Homo sapiens: one gene and its partners. The protein of the gene in region 1 purifies or fractionates together with the protein of each later gene. This does not show direct contact. Each region holds a gene or a part of one and is shown on either strand. Other genes may lie near its edges.

The links.
Region 2: the proteins of UTP4 (region 1) and ANKRD28 purify together in Homo sapiens (co-immunoprecipitation; 3 studies listed by BioGRID and IntAct, with this or other methods). This does not show direct contact.
Region 3: the proteins of UTP4 (region 1) and WDR75 purify together in Homo sapiens (co-immunoprecipitation; 4 studies listed by BioGRID and IntAct, with this or other methods). This does not show direct contact.

What each region holds. Positions count from the first base shown.
Region 1 is NC_000016.10:69,149,577-69,156,688, reverse strand, and holds part of UTP4 (U3 small nucleolar RNA-associated protein 4 homolog), read right to left. Parts: intron 6,153-7,112; coding exon 5,981-6,152; intron 5,877-5,980; coding exon 5,785-5,876; intron 3,106-5,784; coding exon 3,009-3,105; intron 2,297-3,008; coding exon 2,232-2,296; intron 819-2,231; coding exon 696-818; intron 1-695. UniProt on the Homo sapiens protein: Ribosome biogenesis factor. Involved in nucleolar processing of pre-18S ribosomal RNA. Part of the small subunit (SSU) processome, first precursor of the small eukaryotic ribosomal subunit.
Region 2 is NC_000003.12:15,675,875-15,682,986, reverse strand, and holds part of ANKRD28 (serine/threonine-protein phosphatase 6 regulatory ankyrin repeat subunit A), read left to right. Parts: intron 1-3,423; coding exon 3,424-3,511; intron 3,512-3,602; coding exon 3,603-3,686; intron 3,687-4,632; coding exon 4,633-4,778; intron 4,779-5,359; coding exon of another isoform or gene 5,360-5,373; exon of another isoform or gene 5,374-5,424; coding exon 5,425-5,507; intron 5,508-5,930; coding exon 5,931-6,013; coding exon of another isoform or gene 6,014-6,017; intron 6,018-6,997; coding exon 6,998-7,089; intron 7,090-7,112. UniProt on the Homo sapiens protein: Regulatory subunit of protein phosphatase 6 (PP6) that may be involved in the recognition of phosphoprotein substrates. Involved in the PP6-mediated dephosphorylation of NFKBIE opposing its degradation in response to TNF-alpha.
Region 3 is NC_000002.12:189,437,378-189,444,520, forward strand, and holds the start of WDR75 (WD repeat-containing protein 75), read left to right. Parts: upstream 1-4,096; 5' UTR 4,097-4,115; coding exon 4,116-4,201; intron 4,202-7,143. UniProt on the Homo sapiens protein: Ribosome biogenesis factor. Part of the small subunit (SSU) processome, first precursor of the small eukaryotic ribosomal subunit.

The DNA of each region.
Region 1 (7,112 bases):
GTCAGGAGTTCAGGACAGCCTGGCCAACGTGGTGAAACCCCATCTCTACTAAAAATACAAAAAGTAGCCAGGCCTGGTGGTGGGCACCTGTAATCCCAGCTACTCGGGAGGCTGAGGCAGGAGAATGGCTTGAACCCGAGAGGCAGAGATTGCGGTGAGCTGAGGTGGTGCCATTGCACTCCAGCCTGGGTGACAAGAGTGAAACTCGGTCAAAAAAAAAAAAAAGGCTGGGTGCGGTGGCTCACGCCTGTAATGCCAGCACCCAGCACTTTGGGAGGCTGAGGCGGGTGAATCACTTGAGGTCAGGAGTTCAGGACCAGCATGGCCAACGGGTGGTGAAACTCCATCTCTACTAAAAATACAAAAATCAGCCAGGTGTGGTGGTGGGTGCTTGTAATCCCAGGTACTCGGGAGACTGAAGCACAGGAATCGCTTGAACCCAAGAGGCGGAGGTTGCAGTGGGCCAAGACTGTGCCATTGCACTACAGCCTGGGTGACAAGAGCAAAACTCCGTCTCAAAAAAAAAAAAAAAAAGAAAGAAAGAAATAAAACACTGTTTCATAACAGCCTTCTCCAAATCTCCAAATAGTTTTTAACTGAGCAAGGATTCACATCCAGTTGATTTCCACTTCACACAAAAATGACATATTTAGGAAGTTTCCTCTTATGTGACCAGATATTGGACTATCACTTACCCTTTTGAGGCTTATGTTGTCATGTTCATAATTCAGCCGATAGAGAAAAAACCGAGAAACTGTAGAATAGGCTATCCAACTTCCACATGGGGAGATACAGCTACAGATAATGTTCTCAGGACCCTGGCAATATCAGGAATCAAGATGAATGTGCAATTAAACTTCACATAACAAGGTGCACTGGGACATGACGCCTCAAGCTCTTGCCACTCTGGACATACCCACAGATATCTACACATAATCTCGATCCTCGTGTGGTCTGCATTAATATGATTATTTCAGAGGCAGAGCACCTAAAAGGCATGGCTTTGATTTCCAAATCCAAGAATGGAGGTCTATTCTTATTTTGGCCCTTTGAATACTTCATAGATAGCCTCATACTAGACCCCAACTTCAGAAACCTGAGCAGGGAGGCATTTACTGAAGGAAAGCTCTGGAGGATAGGTGGTTTGAAGTACTTATTTTCTGTTTTGTGTACGGCGTTCTGCTTTAAAGACTTCTAAGAAATAGCAAATGAAGAACATTTGAAGGCCAGGTACAGTGGGTCATGCCTGTAATCCCAGCACTTTGGGAGGCTGAGGTGGAGGATTGCTTGAGCCCAGGAGTTCAAGACCTGTCTGGACAACATGGTGAAACCCTGACTCTACAAAAAATTAGCCGGGCATGGTGGTGCACACCTGTAGTCCCAGCTACCTGGGAGGGTGAAGTGGTAGGATCACCTGAGCCTGGGAGGTTGAGGCTGCAGTGAGCCGTGACCGTGCCACTGCTCTCCAGCCTGGATAACACAATGAGACCCTGCCTCAAAAAAGTAAGCAAACAAACAAAAAAACCAACCAACTAACCAAACAAAAAAGAATCTGGAGAATAAAGAAAAGTTGAATGTAACATGTATGTAGTTTTTAAAAACTCACAAAATGATTTTTTTTTCATTGTATACCCTTTTGTACTATTTGAGTTTTTAAAAATATGCACATGGCTGGGCGCGGTGGCTCACGCCTATAATCCCAGCACTTTGGGAGGCCAAGGCGGGCGGATCACCTGAGGTCGGGAGTTCAAGACCAGCCTGACCAACCCCATCTCTACTAAAAATACAAAAAATTAGCCGGGCGTGGTGGCGCATGCATGTAATCCCAGCTACTTGGGGGGCTAAAGCAGGAGAATCGCTTGAACCCAGGAGGCGGAGGTTTCGGTGAGCTGAGGTGGTGCCATTGCACTCCAGCTTGGGCAACAAGAGTGAAACTCCGTCTCAAAAATAAATAAATAAATAAATAAATAAATAAATAAATAAAAGCACATTATTTTCATAATAATATCAAAAGAAGAGAAACCTATTTCCTGTATACATCCATCTAATAAATCCTCAACGTCCTACTTATAATCACAGGAAACCCAGTCCTGGTGACACAGTCCTTCATTCAAATAGTTTTAGAATTTATACAATTTATGATGCAAACTAAGTAACCTCAAAATTCAGAATGGGAATTATGAGCCTAGAATTCAGGCTCTAGAATTCAGAGCCTAAACAAACTTCCTTACCTTTGTCTTTAGGTGCAGTAAATGATCTGCATTTTTAGAGAGTGGAAGAGTATCCCCATTCTTGCCTGAAACAAGAAACTTCCCTGAGATTTTTCTTATGAAAGAAAGAGTATTTGTACATTTTTCTTCTAAAAAGTTACTCCTTGGAAAAATGGAATCTCTATCAGTGGGAAATCAGAAAAATACAAGCTCACTGAGTAAGCTCACAATTTTTGAGGGGTATATGAAGAGAAAGCAGTGAGTACTTCTTTTGCTTCTATCCTCTGATACATCACTAATTCCCTGAAGCTCTAGTCCATAGCCAGGGACACAGGTGGAGTTTGTGTGGCCTCGATTTTAATCCACTGCAAATGAGAGGACTCAAACATTTCCTTAATAAGTCAAAAAGGCCACTAGGCTGTCACTCCAATAAGATCCATGTGATCTTCTTTTTCTACAGGATTATCATTACCCATCATTAAATCTTGTTGTTTTTCAACAGCCTGTTTTCACCTCAGTTAAGCTAGCGCAAACTACGATTCTTCAACCCTTACCTTGACTACACCCTGCAGCGCACCACCTAGAGCCATAAACTTTTAAGAGATGATCCAATATCCTGCTAAAGATTCTAATACTCTAAACAGCTTATTTGCTTTATCTAATGGGTGGGAAAACCATTAGTTAAAATGGACACAAAAGTCTACTTCAGTTTTTCTATAAGCAGAATTCCAACCGCAATTCTGATTTCTGGCTTCTCTCTCCAGTTTTCTTATTGAAAAAAACGTGCTCCCATCTTACCTGTTGCAACTGTGGATCCCAGTCGCCAAAGTTCTAAGTGATGAGCAAACTGGAAGAGGAGAAGCTGCCTCTTTTTAGAACAGGAGATGAGACATCGCTATATCCAAGAATCAAGAAGTTAAAAAAATAAGTCAGGGTCATCTACTGCCTTAGTACCAGATACAGTAGCACCACCTTAGCACATTTTTTACTGCTGAAATCCATTTCCTTGATAAATATTTCCTAAGTACTCCCATATGCCAGGCACTGCCCTGAGATCTATGAAGACGATGATGAATTAAAACATAGCTACTGCTCTCAACATGCTTCTAAAGGGGTGACACAGAATTAAATCAGCAATTAGACTTCAGTGTGCCAAGAATTTTAACACGGCTAAACACAGTATGTACTGAAAAATAAGGAGACAGGACATCTAACCTAGCTGTGTGGTGGTAAATACAGAAGCCCAGATGAGGTTCACTGGGAAAGACCAGTCAGGCGAAGGAGGCAGGGCAGAACATTCTGAGGAGGGTGATGGCATGTGACATAGCTCAAAGGTAAGAGTATTTGAGGGAACAAAAAGACCTTGAGAATGGCTAGCCTGGGTGGGGGTGCTACAAGCACGAGAGGTGCAAAAAGAAGCTGAAGGGCCAGGCCTGGATGGAGACAGGTTCTATAAGACACACTAAGGAAACTGTCTTTATGCTGAAGCCAACAGGGATAACCAGAGGCTTTGAAGCATGGAGTGATGAACAAAGGTGCTTTAAAACAGATCAATGGGCCTGGAGCAGTGGCTCATGCCTGTAATGCCAGCAATCGAGAGGCTGAGGTGCGAGGATTGCTTGAGACCAGGAGTTTGAGACTGGCCTGGGCAAGATAGTGAGATCTTGCCTCTATTAAAAAAAATAAAAAATAAAAAAATTAGCCGAGGCCGGGCACAGTGGCTCATGCCTGTAATCCCAGCACTTTGGGAGGCCAAGGCAGGTGGATCACCTGAGGTCAGGAGTTCAAGACCAGCCTGGCCAACATGGTGAAACCCTGTCTCTACTAAAAATACAAAAAAAATTACCTAGGCGTGGTGGCGGGTGCCTGTAATCCCAGCTACTAGGGAGGCTGAGGCAGGAGAATCGCTTGAACCCAGGAGACTGAGGTTGCAGTGAGCCGAGATTTCACTACTACACTCCAGCCTGGGCAACAAGAGCAAAGCTCTGTCTCAAAAAAAAAAAAAAAAAAAAAAGAAAAACAGAAATTAGCTGAGCCTGGTGGCGCATGCCTGCAGCTCCAGCAACTCGGGAGGCTGATGTGGGAGGACTGCTTGAGCTCAAGAAGCAGAGGTTACAGTGAGCCAAGATTACACCACTGCAGTGCAGCCTGGGTGACGGAGCAAGACCTTGTCTCAAAAAAACAAAAACAAATAAAATAAAATAAGATCAATGAAGAATAGGCTAGAATGACACAAATGCAAATAAAAGGACATGATTAAGAAGCTACTGTAAAGGAACCCAGATGAGAAAAGACACTGATCCAAACTAGGATGATGCCAGCGTAGACAAAGAGAAATGAATGACTCGATTCAAGAGATTATGAGGACTATGTTCAACCTCATCAAACCATATGCATTAAATATGTATGATTTTTAATATATCAAGTATGCCTCAATAGAGCTGTTGATCTATCTATCTATCTATCTATATCTATAACATATGTATAAAGATACTGATGAGTAGACTCAATGAGGTTTACTGCTTGAATGAATGGGGCAGCAGGTGTGGGGAGCAAGTTTTCTAGCTTGGGAAGATGGTACCATTTACCTAGAACACTGGAAGCCTGGGTTTTCCCGCTCCCACCCAGAATAGAGCCTACCCTGAAAGACAAACTAACAAAATTCCCATAACCCACAACTATTTGGAAAAGGGAAAAATTTCCCCAGAAACTGAACTAGGTGTGCTGCTGCATATCTCCTGCCCCCATAAATGTCTTTGCAGTGGCTTGCCTCAAAAACAGAAGGAATGAAGAAGGTAGCTACAGAAAGTCCTACAATATCTCCATGTCCCAGATGGTTAAAAAAAAAAAAAAGGCAGGGGCTGGGCACAGTGGCTCACGCCTGTAAGCCCAGCACTTTGGGAGGCCGAGGCGGGCGTATCACGAAGTCAGGAGATCAAGACCATCCTGGTTAACACAGTGAAACCCCACCTCTACTAAAAATAAAAAAATTAGCCGGGCGTGGTGGTGGGCACCTGTAGTCCCAGCCACTCGGAAGGCTGAGGCAGGAGAATGGCATGAACCTGGGAGGCGGAGCTTGCAGTGAGTGGAGTCGCACCACTGCACTCCAGCCTGGGCGACAGAGAGAGACTCAGTCTCAAAAAAAAAAAAAAAGAAAAAAAAAGGACCACAAAGCTGAGCGTGGTGGCTCACACTTGTAATACCAGCACTTTGGGAGGCTGAGGCGGGCAGATCACCTGAGGTTGGGAGTTCCGAGATCAGCCTGACCAACATGGAAAAACCCAGTCTCTACTAAAGATATAAAATTAGCTGAGCGCGGTGGCGCATGCCTGTAATCCCAGCTACTCGGGAGGCTGAGGCAGGAGAATCGCTTGAACCCGGGAGGTGGAGGTTGTGGTGAGCCGAGATCGCGCCATTGCACTCCAGCCTGGGCAACAAGAGCAAACTCTGTCTCAAAAAAAAAAAAAAAGTCCTACAAATTTGCCGAGCGTGAGCTGTGTTCAGAGCTTGTGGGACAGGGGGACACAGGGATGGGGAGATGAGGGGTTAGCAGGGGCTTGGAATGGACACTTACGTGGGGAAAGGTGATTTTTCGGAGAGCGGCATCGTAATTCTTTACTTCCACCTTCTCCATGAGAGGACGAAAGACTAAGTGGGTGTCAGTGCCTGGGAAAGCAGGGGAGAAGGTGTACAGAATTAGAAGTCATCCTCACGAGAACAGCCAGAACTGGGCAGGGTAAAGCAGCAGCCTCACCAGAGGGGGAACCCACCTCCAGATATCAGCGCTGTTGGGCTGTGGGCCACAGTGCGCACGTCATGAGTGTGATGCTGGAACGGTTTTGTCCGCACCCACTGCTTCTCACTGCTGTTAGATGTCACAGGGACCAGCTGAAAATGGAAGACTGTTCCCTCGGCTGTGCCCACCACGAAACTGTCTTCTTGCTGAGGAATTAAATCATGAGGGAGGTACACGTAAGCAAAACAAGGTCTGGTTGGAAAAATATTCCGAGGCTTTCTGTCTCAGCAGCTTAGGGGTAAACCTATGCCCAGAATCAGTAGGAAAGTTACAAGGGTCTTTTCCTTCCAGAAGCTAAGGATTCCATCAAAGGAGCAAGCTCAGACACTGGTAACAATGCGCCCCCTACTGACAAAATTAACGTCTACAGTACAGCAACGCTTCATATACCCAACATAGATCTCCTTAGAATAGCATTGAGAGAGAGAAAATACCTAGGACCTACTTGAGAAATTTAAATCCTTCGAAAGAACATAAGAGAAAACCTAACAAAGAAATTCATATCATGTTATTTAATACGAATATTTAACATGATCAAGTTATTATCACTAAAGAAATGTATTAAACCAATAAAAATACTGAAAATCCTTTATTTGGAACTAGAACAGGTGTTTCTTAATAACGTTTATTTCATTAAAAATATCCAAGAAACATCAGCCAGGCATGGTGGCTCACTCCTATAATCCCAGCACTTTGAGAAGCTGAGCTGGGTGGATCACTTGAGGCCAGGAGTTTGAGACCAGCCTGGCCAACATGGTGAACCCCGTCGCTACTAAAAATACAAAAATTAGCTGGGCGTGGTGGCGCATGCCTGTAATCCCAACTATTTGGACGGCTGAGGCACGAGAATCACTTGAACCTGGGAGGCAGAGGTTGCAGTACGCCAAGATCGCACCACTGCACTCCAGCCTGGGCAACAGGGCGAGACTCTGGCTTAAAAAAAGAAAAAAAAATGCAAGAAACACCAATAAAAAAGTTTCTTAAATAAACAAGGTGGGCAGAGCAGCACAAACCTGTAGTCCCAGCTACTCAGGAGACTGGGTAGGAGGATCACTTGAGCCCAGAAGTTGGAGACCAGTCTGCACAACATAGTGAGACCTCATCTT
Region 2 (7,112 bases), on another chromosome or scaffold:
TGTGCAAGAGACAGAATTTTGCAAGAACTGCATGCCTGGTTGCCATTTAAAGATCATAACAAATGTGTCTGATTTTCAGCCTGTAGCAAAATTGTGGTGATGCTGAATTTGAGCTGGAAGGAATTTAATGTGTGTTGGCTATATGCAATAAGCGACTATATAGACAGCCTAAAATTAATACCATATTTATAGCCAAAAGCCCGTTTTATAATTTGGCATTCTGAAAGTAGAATATGTAAAATGGTTTTTACTTTAACTAGTAATTATTGTACAGCTGGAAAGAAAAGTGGAAGCATGCCAACAGAACAGAAAACAACCTCTTAAAATTAAAATGAAATGATGGCCAAGTTTTAGAAAAACACTGGCTGTAGATACTAAAAGTTCACAATTTCAGTTTATATAGTCATTCAATCACAGAACTTAAGAATACTTATTATTCCTTTAAAAAATGTGTTCATTTTTATGAAGCTCTAAACATCCTCAGACTAGCCTCTGAAACTCAGGAGGACCCAGTTTACCATCCTATCTATCTTTCATAAATGATGATAGAAAGTTATGAGATTGTCTGCTTGATATCACCCAGTAATGATTTCTGGAGGTCACAAAGGGGCCCCACTGTTCCCTTTTCTCAGTCTGTACTCAGATGGTGAGTGGTTCTCAAACCCTTTGGTCTCAGGAACTATGGATTGATACTGACTGTATTAGAAATTGTAATTGAGAAATTTTTAAATACTTACTGATTTATTTAAAAATAATGTCTATTACATGTTAACATAAATAATCTTTTTTTATGAAAACTATTTTCCAAAAGTATTTTCTTTTTAGTGAGAAGAGTAGTACATCTCTTCATAGCTAATTTAAGAGAATAGTTGGGTTCTCATCTGTGTTTTTATTCATATTTTTTTTGCGTCACCCCAGGGTTCCCTAGGCCACACCTTAAGAACCCATATACCTGGAGAATGAGGGGCTCTTAAGTCAACAATGGACAACTTTCCATTGCTGTATCTTAGTAATGAGTTAACATTCAGAACGATGGCATTAAAGGAGTTTCTCAACCTCAGCACTATGACGTTTTGGGCCAGATGATTGTTGCAAGGGACTCTCCAGTGCATTGCAAGATGTTTAGCAGCATCATTGGTTTCTACCCACTAGATGCCAGTTGCACTGCCCCACCTTCAGTTGTGATAAACAAAAATGTCTGTAGGCATTGCCACATACAATATCTGCTGATGGGCAAAATCCACTTGAAAACTACTAGATTAGAGAAAAGAACTGACAAAAGATGGAACACAATTACAGGTTTTTCTAAAAATTACTTTTCCACAATTATAGGGTAAAGTTTAAGCTGATTAAGTTTGAGTAATTTAAAAAGAAAAGAAAATATAACATCACTTTGGTAGGCAAATATTAAACCATGAAAATGTATAAAGAGGCCATGTAAGAATCTTATTCCTAAAGTAGATCCCAAATGACTAATGAAATAAAATAAGCAACATTTTATTTGTAGTAATTAGGGTATTAAATTAAAACCCTGGCTCTGGAATTAGGGTAAGAAAATTTGAAATTTGGATTTTTCTGTTTTTGAAGTTACTGTTAAAAACTATGGACCAGATATTGATGAACAGTCAATACAGTCAGCCCTCCATATCCATGGGTCCCCCATCGGTGAATTCAACTGAATGTCCATCAGAAATATAGTTAGGCTGAACATGTACAGACTTTTTTTTTGTCATTATTCCCTAAACAATACAACAACTATTTATATAGCATTTACATTGAATTAAGTTGTAAGTAATCTAGAGATGACTTAAAGTATATGAGAAGATGTGCATAGGTTATACACAAATAAACCATTTTGTACAAGGGACCTGTATAAGGGACTATGGAGTTTTGCTGTCAGTGGGGAGTCCTGGACCCAATCCCCCAAGAATACCAAGGCTGGATACTTCTCCTTTACCACAGCAATATCACTTTGGTAGGAAATTGTCCTACAAAAATACTTCCTAAAATAAAAACAAAATGTTGGCCGTGGTGGCTTATGCCTGTAATCCCAGCATTTTAGGAGGCTGAGGCAGGCAGATCACTTGAGCTCTGGGATTCAAGACCAGCCTGAGCAACATGGCAAAACTTCATCTCTACAAAATATCAAAAAATTAGCCAGGTGTGGTAGCCTTGCACCTGTTGTCTTAGCAACTCAGGAGGCTGAGGTGGGAGGATCACTTGAGCCCAGGAGGTTGAGACTGCAGAGAGTCATGATCATGCCACTGCACTTCAACTTGGGCAACAGAGCAAGACCCTGTCTCAAAAAATTGTTTTAATAAAATAAAAAAATACCAGAATGTTTCATTACAGCGTTGTTGATAATATCATGAAGAATTTTTTTAAACTAGCAATCACTTTAAAATCCATAATTAGATTAAATAATTTATGATATACTTTGATACTGTGAAGCTCTTCAGAACATTAAAGAATAAGATTTTAGCCGGGCATGGTGGCTCACACCTGTAATCCCAGCACTTTGGGAGACTGAGGCAGGTGGATCACCTGAGATCAGGAGTTTGAGATCAGCCTGACCAACATGGTGAAACCCCGTGTCTACTAAAAATACGAAAAAAGCTAGCTGGGCATGGTGGTGGGCGCCTGTAGTCCAGCTACTTGGGAGGCTGAGACAGGAGAATCACTTGAACCCAGGAGGCAGAGGTTGCAGTGAGCCAAGATCGCGCCACTGCACTCCAGGCTGGGCAACAGAGTGAGACTCCATCTAAAATAATAATAATAATATTTCATATATGCTATTATGGAAGGATATGTGTAGTTAATATTAAGTAAAAGGCAAGTTGCGGAATTAAACATCCCATTGCCATTAAGAAAAAAATAAAAAAATAGCACAGTCATTTCTCGTTTGCTGTTGAGGATTGGTTTCCAGGACCCCTTGTGAATACCAAAACCAACAGGCGCTCAAGTCCCTTATAGAAAATGGGATAGTATTTGCATATAACCTATGCACATTCTCTGCTATACTTTAAATCATCTCTGGATTACTTATAATAACCAATGTAATGTAAATGTTATGTAAATAATTGGTATGCTGTATTTAGGGTATATGACAAGAAAAAAAGTCTGCTCTGTTTTTTTTTTCCCCCAAATATTTTTAATTTGGGGTTGGTTGAATTGATGGATGCAGAACCCACGGATACAGAGAGCCAACTGTATGTATTTTGTGCGTGCAGTTGTATATGCCTAGAAATTTTCAGGAACTACTGGTGGCTTAACAGCTACCAATGGTTATATTCCAGAGAGGGGATCTGGGAGATGGGATGAGGGAGAGACTTTTACATTTTTCCTTTAAACACTTACATGTACCTGTGATTTTTGCCAGTATCTCCTTTGAATTTTAATACCTGGTTCTTTACACCTATTTAGGTCACGAGACATGTGTAGAACTGCTTTTAGAACAGGAAGTTTTCCAGAAAACGGAAGGAAATGCTTTTAGTCCATTGCATTGTGCCGTGTAAGTAAAGCCAGAATGAATCAGATTTGGTTTGAGTGTTTTAAGAAATACACCATTGCTGTGAGAATGATCACCTTGTTACCTTACACAGGATAAATGACAACGAAGGTGCTGCTGAGATGTTAATTGATACATTAGGTGCCAGCATTGTGAACGCCACAGATTCAAAAGGAAGGTAGGAATTCAACTATGTATTAAATAGTTTTAGCCAGGCACAGTGGCTCATGCCTATAATCCTAACAATCTGGGAGGCTGAAGTGGGAGGATGACTTGAAGCCAGGAGTTTAAGACCAGCCTGGTCAACATAGCAAGACCTGCATCTCTACCAAAAAAAAAAAAAGTGCATGATGATGCATGCCTGTGATCCCAGCTGTTCAGGAGGCTGAGGCAGGAGGATCACTTGAGCCCAGGAGTTTGAGGCAACAGTGAGCTATGATTGCACCACTGCATTCCAGCCTGGGTGACAGAGTGAGATCCCGTCTGGGCCCTACCCCCCAAAAAGGTTTTATTTTCAATAAGAAATAAATTTTAACTACTGGCTGGTGTGAGAGAATTTACAGAAAACCCATTATTAAAAGTTGATTTTTATATTTGCGAGTATAAATTGTTATAAGATCTCAATTATTTTTACATTATAAAAGGTTTTTCTATTTATAGATTTTAGGAAGTTTTCCTCCTTTAAACTATTTTAACATGTAAATATTTTTCCCTCTCTTTCGAATTTGTTTCCCAAAGATTATTGTTAACAAAGTTAACAGTTTTCTAAATGGGAATAAAGCCTGGAAAAAAGTCCAGCAGTTGTAATAAGTGGTGGTATTCAGATTAGGATTTATTTCTTTCAAAATTTCCTTTAATGATGTAATGTTATTTTAGCAATTTTGTAATTAATCTTTACTTCATACTAGTTCTAGTTTAATTAAAGCCTTCTGTATTATTGAAAGTACAAATTTCTATGAGAGAAATTAGTAAGCTCCATTGAGCCTATTTGTTTGTGTACAGGCAGTGCTTTTGTAGCCTAATATGTAAACCCTTAAAAACAGCATGTCACAAATTAAAGAATATTTTTCCAGCATATATAACATTCAAATTTAGTCATATATTTCAATTTTTCTTTATCACAGAACTCCTCTCCATGCAGCCGCCTTCACAGACCATGTAGAGTGTTTACAGCTGCTGCTCAGCCATAATGCTCAAGTCAATTCTGTGGACTCTACAGGGAAAACACCTCTTATGATGGCTGCAGAAAATGGACAAACAAATACAGTTGGTAAAGAAACTTCTTTAAAATTGTATTTTCCTAAGTATGTGTATCACTTATGTATAACTTAGATCCCAAGACTTCTGACTTCAACTAGTTATCTTACCACTCCTAAGACTTAAAACCTTTTACCTGTTTGCAATCCACATTTTCATTTAGGGATACAATGTTTTAGTTTGCCCTGACTATTGAGGAGTCTACTTTACCATGGCCTTATAACATAGTGGTTAAGAACACTGGCTGTGGAGTTGGATTGCCTGAATGTGAGTCCTAGATCTTTCAGCTAAATGACCTTATGCCTCAGTTTTCTCATTTATAAAATGAGAAAAATAACAGTATCTACTTGGTGTGTTGTTGTGAGGGTTAAATAAATTACTTTAAATCCAGAGCATATAAAACAGTATTTAAAATTTAGTGCACAGTCACAAAATAAATGTTAATTGCCATTGTTAGAGTGTGTGACTTATACAACAATATAATTGTCTCATACAATTATATGAAGATATATATGTTATATATTACAATATTTTTCTTGTACTTAAGTTTTTGTGAGAGGGACTTTTTTGCTTTGTATCTTCATTTCTCTACAGTGAGTTATTGGTAATCTAAGAAACATGTTCATAAACATAAGAATTGATGCACTTTTTCCTCCCAGAGATGCTGGTTAGCAGTGCTAGTGCAGAACTGACTTTACAAGATAACAGTAAAAATACTGCCCTCCATTTGGCTTGTAGCAAGGTATGTATACATCTTAAGAATATGTTTCCATTGTTAATATTAACAGTGACCTTAAAAGTTTTTTGACTTCACTAAAATGAACAACTCAGGACCAAACCTCTCTAATGATCACTGGTATTAGATTTCTTGAACAAAATTGACTTATAAGGCACCATGGCGTATCAAAGTCTCCAGTAAGCCAAATAAGTTTTGGAACACAAGTCTAAGCATAATTATCCTCTTTCCTTAATCTTAATTTTGTCCTCTTCTCCTACCCTCACTCCCAAGATGTGTTTGGGCAAATATTAAGATATTAGCCAGGAAAATTCATGGTATATGTATGGTGTTGTACATAATATATGGACTAGGATTGCAGATTGTTGGGTGTATAAATGTATCTTTAATGGTGCTCAAGTTTTTATAACTTATCTGCCACAATTATAGGGTCATGAAACTAGTGCCTTGTTAATACTGGAAAAGATAACAGATAGAAACCTCATCAATGCAACCAACGCAGCCTTGCAAACGTGAGTACTGTCAGTATCTAGTATAAACTTTGTGACCTATAATTATAAAAATGATAAATGGATTTTTTTAAACATGTGACTATTGGAATAGGTTTCATTAGTCATAGAAGCAATTTTAATAGTTTTACAACTGTCAAAACTCATTTCTAAAATGATCACAACTAAAAGCCATATTATTTAAAATGCTTTTGAACTGAAATTTTATTATAACATTGACAATAATGTATTTTTTTCCTTAATCCACCTACCTAATTTTCTGAAGGAAAGTAGTACTATTTTGTGTATTCTGTGGAAATCAACTGTAATAATATGTTACTTGAAACTAACAATAAATGAGGTAAGAAGCTTTATGTGTGTCTGTAAGCCAATAAGGTTTCTTAAAGAATCAAAATTTTTAATAATGTGAGCAGCCAACCTCCAGATAGACTGACAGAGATCTTACATCAGTGTCTCTCATTGTCCCTTGCTATTCCATTTTGAGGTTTAGTAAAGATAAAAATCTTAGAATATTGTTGCCCGTTCTGGGATTAGTCAGATCCCTTGAAGGTCCAAAAATTAGTCATGATGCTTGTAAGCTGTTTTCAAAGCCTATTAGAATTTATGCTACTGCAGTTTACAGTTTTTAATGTATAGTCTGTATCTTTACCAGCCTCATTCCTTAACAACGGAGGAATGCAATTTCAATGGTAAAATGTTTTTAAACATTGAAAAGAAAAGTAACAAAAGGATTGGGTGAAGGTAGGGACCTGTCGATGGGACCTATGGCTGAGCTTGATGCCGAGCTACACGTTGACAAGGTGTGACAGTGCACTGCACAGAGGTTCTGCTCTCCCTGCCCCCATCTTTGTTATTAGGACTAGGTTTCTCGAGTTTGTACCTCTTGGTCTTCACAAGTTGACAAAAATGCTCTTTGACAGCCAGGTGTGTATGTGTATGTGCATGCACATGCACATATGTGTACATGTATCATGTTTTTTCCCCTAGACCTCTGCATGTTGCTGCCCGAAATGGGCTAACAATGGTGGTTCAGGAACTTTTGGGAAAAGGAGCAAGTGTGCTTGCAGTAGATGAAAATGGTAAGTTGGTTCTATATTCTCTT
Region 3 (7,143 bases), on another chromosome or scaffold:
AGGGCATGAGTTTCTGCATTTCTAACAAGCTCCCAGGTGACACTGCTGTTGCTGGTCCACGGACCACACTTTGTGCAACAACATTTCAAACCATTCTAAAATTTCGCTTTAGCCACTGGGTACAAGAGATCATACAATTTTAATCTATGGGTTTAATCATAGCCAAAACAGAAAAGGTGTAATTATAACCATGAGAACTGTTAACCTTAAATGGAACATAACCCGCTTGTGATAATCATCACTTAACTGCCTGAGGTTCCTAGGGCAGAGGTATACAAGAGAGAAAGTGCAGAATGAAAAATATATGGGATAGATAAGGATTTCAGCATCATAGGAAACCTAAGAAGAGATAAAAATTGCACCATCATTAGGGAATGAGGAAACATAGCAGAGCCCAAGGGCCTATCACTAAGTAATTCATGACATTAATACAAAATCGATGTAATCTGCTTGAAGATGTCTCCTATGTACATTATGCAGGGTAGTGGTGTGAAATACTGTACATGGTGTTTATATCTGTTGAAGGGAACAGAAACATACATGAAGATACTAAGCAGTAAAAATGTGACTAAATCCTTCTCACTAATGGGAAAGCTTTTAAAAATTTTATTAAATAAAAAATAAATAAAAATAAAAATTTTAAAAGAGAATGCTCAAAACTCAACAAGAAGATAACCAATAAAGCAATGCGTGAAGGACTTGATGACACTTCACCAAAGAGGATATAAAATGATGCTCAGCATTAGTCATTAGGGAAGTGAAAATTAAAACCACAATGAAATACCACTACAAACTTATTATGATGGCTAAAATAAAAAAAAAAAACCTTGACAATACCAAGTCCTGACAAGGGTGTAAAGTAACTAAAACTTTCATACATTACTTATGGAAATGCAAAAATAGTACAGTAACTCTGGGAAAAAAAGAGTTTGGCAATTTCTTAAATAAACATACACTTATGATTTGAGCAATCTCATTTGCTGGTATTTATCCTAGAAAAATAAAAGCTTATGTTCACACATAAACCTACATATGAATGTTTAGAGAAGTATTATGCATAATTTCTAAAACCTGGGGGTAAAACACATTCAACAAATAAACTGTGAAATAGCCATACAATGGAATACCACTCAGCAATATAAAGCACTGATGCACATAACATAAATGCAATATGCTAACTGAAAGAAGCTAGACTGAAAAGGTTACATACTATATGATACCATTTATACATGGCTTTCTGGAAAAGGCAAAACTAGGGATGGAGAACATTAGTGGTTGCCAGGGGATAGGTCTTGGGGAGGGGAAGGAGAAATACTGGGGAATTCTTTGAGGTGCTGGAATTCTTCTGTATCCTATTTGTGATGGTGGATACGATAATTTGTGCATCATAGATATCAAAGAAAGCAGATTTTATTGTATGTAAATTTTTAAAATTAGCCTAATCGTTTCACTTTTTAACACAAAGGCTACACTGTCTTCAATTTCAGAGTAAAACCCAAAGCTGTTACAATGATCTAGGAGACCCTATGAACTGGCCTCTTATTACCTCTCTGACCTCACCTTTTACTATACCCCCTTGATGATTATTCTCCAGCCACACTGGCCTCTTGACTTATCTTGAACATGGAAAGGAATACTCTTTCCTCTGGCTGACTCTTTCACCAAACAGCTCCATGCTTATTCACACTCTCAACCTTTTCAGGTTATTTCAAATGTTACCTTCTCAGTAAGGCTTTCCCTGAAAACCCATAATAAAGGTGATCAAACCCTTATAATCACTTTCTTTTCTACTTTGAGTTTCCCCTTGGCACATAAATACATCAAAAGTATAATAAGTTTTTGTTTCTTCCCATGATAAGGTAAGGTCCAGTAACATACAGATTTTGTTAACTATTTTTCTCACTCCAGTATTCCCAGAGCCTGAAAGAATGTCTGGCATATACTAGGCACTTAGTAAATATTTCCTGGATGGAAGATGCCAAATAAGTGTTTCTGGAAAATCCTTTTCCTTCTGTATATAGGCTATGCTCTTTCTTGCTATTCCCTTATTTCTTCTAACTGAAAGGAACATGAACTGTGAGCATAAGGACAAAACCAATATGGTTAAGGACAATAACACAAAGAACAAAGTAGAGAAAGCACAGGTCCCTGGTGGCATGAATGATCCACTGCACTAGCCCTATTCTGCCTACCTCAGCCTTCTTGTTACATGATAAAGACAACGCACTATTAATTAAACAGCTGTAGGTGGGATTGGTTCCTTAAAAATTATGTAAAAAGAAATCAAAATACAAATGACTTATCTTTCTGGGCACTTCAGTAAATTAAAACTCTGTGTAAAATAATCCTCCTATACATTTATCAATCCAGCTAGTTTTTGTCCATATCAGGATTTCTGATTCTTTTCTGAAAAATCTAAAGTTACCATACAGTAACATACAACTAAAGTCACACTAATTTGAGTGAAAATATTTATTTTGTTTCTTGGCTCAGGCCCTAAGGAAAAGCCTGTATCAGGTTACAAAGTACCCAACAAAGTCTTTAAAAGATTTATTGTGCATACATCAAGAGACTAAACAAAAAGAGGTTAAGGCTGCAGAATCAAAAGTGATATTTTACACTCCATCCACTGTGACAAAGGGTATCACAGTCATGAAAGAGAAAGCTGGTTACAGCTTGAGATAAACCAAAATTATTAAATATCTCCCTTTCTAGTTCTGGCTCCCCAAATAATAAAGTTTTGAGCACTTTAATAAGCTAGACTCCTCAGTAAAAAGTAAATTTATCCCTGATTTTTACAGTGGTGCTGTCCCAGGATATGTCTTGACCTTTGTGAATATTGTATTTCTCCACCATAAATAAACTTATAGGTATAATCATGTGTGGCTTAATGATGGGGATATGTTCTAAGAAATGCATTTTAGGTGATTTCATCATTGTGTGAATATCACAGAGTGTACCTACACAAACCTAGATGGTACAGCCTACTACACACCTAGGCTGTACGTTATAGCTGATTGCTCCTAGGCTACAAATCTGAACAACATGTTACTGTACTCAATATTGCAGGCAATTGTAACAGAATAGTATTTGTGTATTTAAACACATAAAAGGTACAGTAAAAACACAGTATTATAATCTTACGGAATCACCATGTTATATGCATTGATTGAAAGATCCTTATGTGACATGTGACTATATTTGAGACCTTGGTAATTTTGTGGTAAATCCACAAATCAAGAAGCGAAATCAAAATAGGCAACATAATATACAGGGTCCAAGAATATGATACGTGTAAGTTTACAAAGGAAAACTGGAGATAAACTGGCAAAAATAAACATGTTGAGATTTTAGGGGTTCCTAACCCACAGATTCTATTCACTAATGGGAAAAGGTAAAACTCAGGAAACCAGAGACCAGCGCCCTGAAACCTGGCGGGACTGGCCGAATGTCAGATTAGCCCGAGCAGCTACACTGAACGCTGCGGAAGATGCACCAGAATCCCGGAGTAGGAGCCAGATTTCCAAAGGAAGAAAGCTAGGCCCTAGGACTGTGGAGATTCTGTAGTAACCTAAGCGATGTTCACAAGAACAGAAGAACGGCTAATGAGAGGAACAAAAAGCTGTACAAGGAAGAGAAAGCTACCTTTCCACCCAATAACTCAACGCTGCGACCGAGAAAACCAGGGACGCGAGAGGCTCGCGTCATCCTGCAGCGCCGACACCACAGACACTAGAAAGCGACGCCTCCGGTGGGACGACTGGAGGTCACGTGGTACACTATACGCCACCTTTCCCTTCTGGCGGAAAAAGCCATAGAGTCAGGTTGACAAGGCCTGAGAGAAATATGTCTGTATTAAATAATTGTGTATAGGTATATAATAAAAACTGATTGTCTCTAAATCTCTGTTTTGCTTTCACCTTTTCTTACAAGTGTCTTAGTTTGACATTGCCCACACAAAAGGTGCCTGCACGGAAGCGGAGTCCTACCACCGAGTCTCAGGCCTAGAAGGGCCCGGGGGTGGGTTCTGTGGGCTGGGAACAGCCTTATTACCCGGCTCAACGAAGGAAGTTCAGGGCGGGACCAGAGATTGGCCATTCCGCTACTGCGCAAAGATGGTGGAGGAGGAGAACATCCGCGTGGTTCGTTGTGGCGGCAGCGAGTTGAACTTTAGGAGAGCTGTGTTCTCTGCAGATTCTAAGTATGAGGGGCACCGCGCTTTGTCGGCTGAGGGGCGGGGCGTGAGTTTCTCGAGGGTCGGGGAGAAGGAATTGTCAGTCGCGTTCGGACTCGCCCGCCTGGCGGATATCGGCTTTGGGTAGAGCACGCGCCTGTGGGGGATCCCCAGGGTACCTGGGAGGTCCCGTTACCACTGCAGATTGGGTTGCGTCCCCCGATTCCTGGACAGTTTACCTGCAGGTAGATAAAGGCCCTGGAGCCGGTCTCCGTGTCGAGGATCTGGAAGGTGTTCGGGCGGCTGGAAAATGGTCCAGGGGTGGATGTGTATGCCACTACCTTTGCAGTACCTACTCTTTCGTACAGAATCATGTTTTGGAGTGACTAAAACCTAAAACTATTCCGCTTTTTCTACCCACTCCTCACTCCTGAAGCATAGTGCATGAAGCATAGTGCAGTCTTTTCGGAACTTTACATGAAAACAGATGTTAGATTCTTTATGAGATAAAAATACGCTAAGACTTGGTCTCTTTTCTCAGTGTAGCTGGAAACCAAACCACTCCCTGGCTTCAAAATCCACTTCTTACATTATGAAACCTTTGTAAGTTTCTTAATCTTTGCCTCAGTTGCCATCATCTGTAAAGGGGGACAATATTTAGTTCATCTCACGTGGTTATTGGGAGGATTAAATGCCTCAATATGTTAAAACTACAGACAACAATGCCCGGCACATAATGGCTCAATGTATGTAGCTGTAATCATTATTACTGTATTGTCAGGTTTTCAAATAACTTTAGGTAGGGTGGCACTTAATAAAATCAAAAAACCCTTTCTGCCTTAGAAGAGTAGAGATAGTATTTTATGAAAGTTTGTAGCCTCCACAATATTCTTTTTTTTTTTTTTTTTTTTTTTTTTGATGCAGAATCTCACTCTGTCACCCAGGCTGGAGTGCAGTGGCTCAATCTAGGCTCATTGCAACCTCCGCCTCCCTGGTTCAAGCAATTCTGGTGCCTCGGCCTCCTGAGTAGCAAGTATTATAAGCGCGGGCCACCACGCCCGCTAATTTTTGTATTTTTAGTAGAGAGAGGGTTTCGCCATGTTGGCCAGGCTGCCCTGGAACTCCTGGCCTCAAGTGATCTGCCCACCTGAACCTCCCAAAGTGCAGCGATTACAGTGAGCAACTGTGCCCGGCCCACCCCCACAATATTCTGCATATGAGTGTACGACAGGTAGTTGTTGAAGGTAATGCAAGCATGACTGAAAGAGCTTTTATAAATTGCCTTAGAAGCCAAAAAAAAATGAGTCCTGTGGCTTTGTTGACATTGATCTTATGAATCAAAGGAAGAAACAGGCTTTAAGAGGCTGTCACACTGTGACGCTTCGGACTCATATCCATGTAACCAGTACTGTTCTTATACCTTATTCATTATAATGAGGTCCATTGTGTGTTTGATTTGCTAAGCCCAACAATTCATTTTTTAAGTACTTGTCAACTATATATTATGTATAACATGCTGCAGTGACAAAAACTAAGATAATTTTAATATTGATCCTGCCTTCGAGGAGCTTACAGTCTAGTGAGGAAAAGGAATACTCAGTAACAGATTTTTCTTACTGTGGTCCTGTAGGAAGGAGCTCATAAGAAGAGATTACTTCCCAAACTAAGAAGGACGGAGAAGATTGCTGAGCAAATGACATTTGTGCTAGGCCTAGATGATATTTTAAGTGGGGAATATGGACAGAAGACATTTCAGGTGGGGAGGACAGTGTAAGCAAGAAAGACAGAAGTGATTTCTGTTGAACAGGCTGGTACAGTTAGCTAGTAAGAATGGTATATATTAAGGGAGGTAGTGGGAAATGAGGTTGGAAAGGACACGTGCAGCCAGTTGTTGGTTGTTGTTTGGACCAAAGAGAATGGTTTTTTAATTCTTTAAGGGGACGGCGGTAATCAGTTGTAATTTGATTGTGTTTCTTCAATAATGTTAACCTGAAAACTGTAAAACTCTATGATACATGTTGGTGAGTGGAGAAATGAGAGCTGGGTAGGCTGATGTACATAAAGTACAGTGATGGCATAGAAGAGGGAGTTACATAGTCAGTTTTACCTTCAGTAGTGGTTCTTGCAGCAATGGCAAGAGTTTGCCTCACCAGTAATACTGGGGGATGGAATGCCAGGCAAACAAGCTTGAAATCTGGGGGCCTTGAAAACTGGGGGGATTGAGCCTTCTATGTAAAGTCAGTGTAATTGCAGCATAGGGTATAAGAGATGGCAGGAAAAGACTCTGGAAGAATAGAGACCAGGGGTTAGAAGACCAGTGCAGGCATCCAAGCAAGAAATCACTTTTGCCCAAACTAAGGTAATATTGAACATGGAGAAAAGAGACAGGGTTTTAGAGTGATTTCACAGTCAGTGTCAATGGGGAGATAGAGTTCAGTTCGGGGTTATTAACTCTAAGGTACCTGTAAAACAACCAGGTGGATATAGCTAGTAGTAGGTAGAAATTCAGGACTGAAGTTTGGAGAACTTGGTCAAGATTTAGAGATTTTTTTTTTGTCATCTATATATAAGCTAATAATTAAAACCATTTATCTAACAAATGACAGGATTTTAATGAACTCAGCAAAGATTTGAATATTATCTACAAGGTACCACAAGGGATTGGCTGCCTTATACAAAGAGGAATAATTTTGTATTTTACCTCAAGGTGCTTATCAAGAAAGCCAAAATCATAAAAAGACAGACTTGTGGAATTTTGGCGGCTTCCTCTTGAAACTAGAACAAAAACTCTGTTCTAGGTACTTGAGTAGGTTGTTCTGAGGGGCATGTGGGTATACATGTAAGTTCCTGGTGTTCCCATATTAGATATTACTGACTCTCAGTCCAGTTCTGTTTGCATCCCATTCTGCGGCATCCCACAGTTATATGGTGCTGTGAATTATTGCACTGGGGTTGTTAGGGTAGAGAAA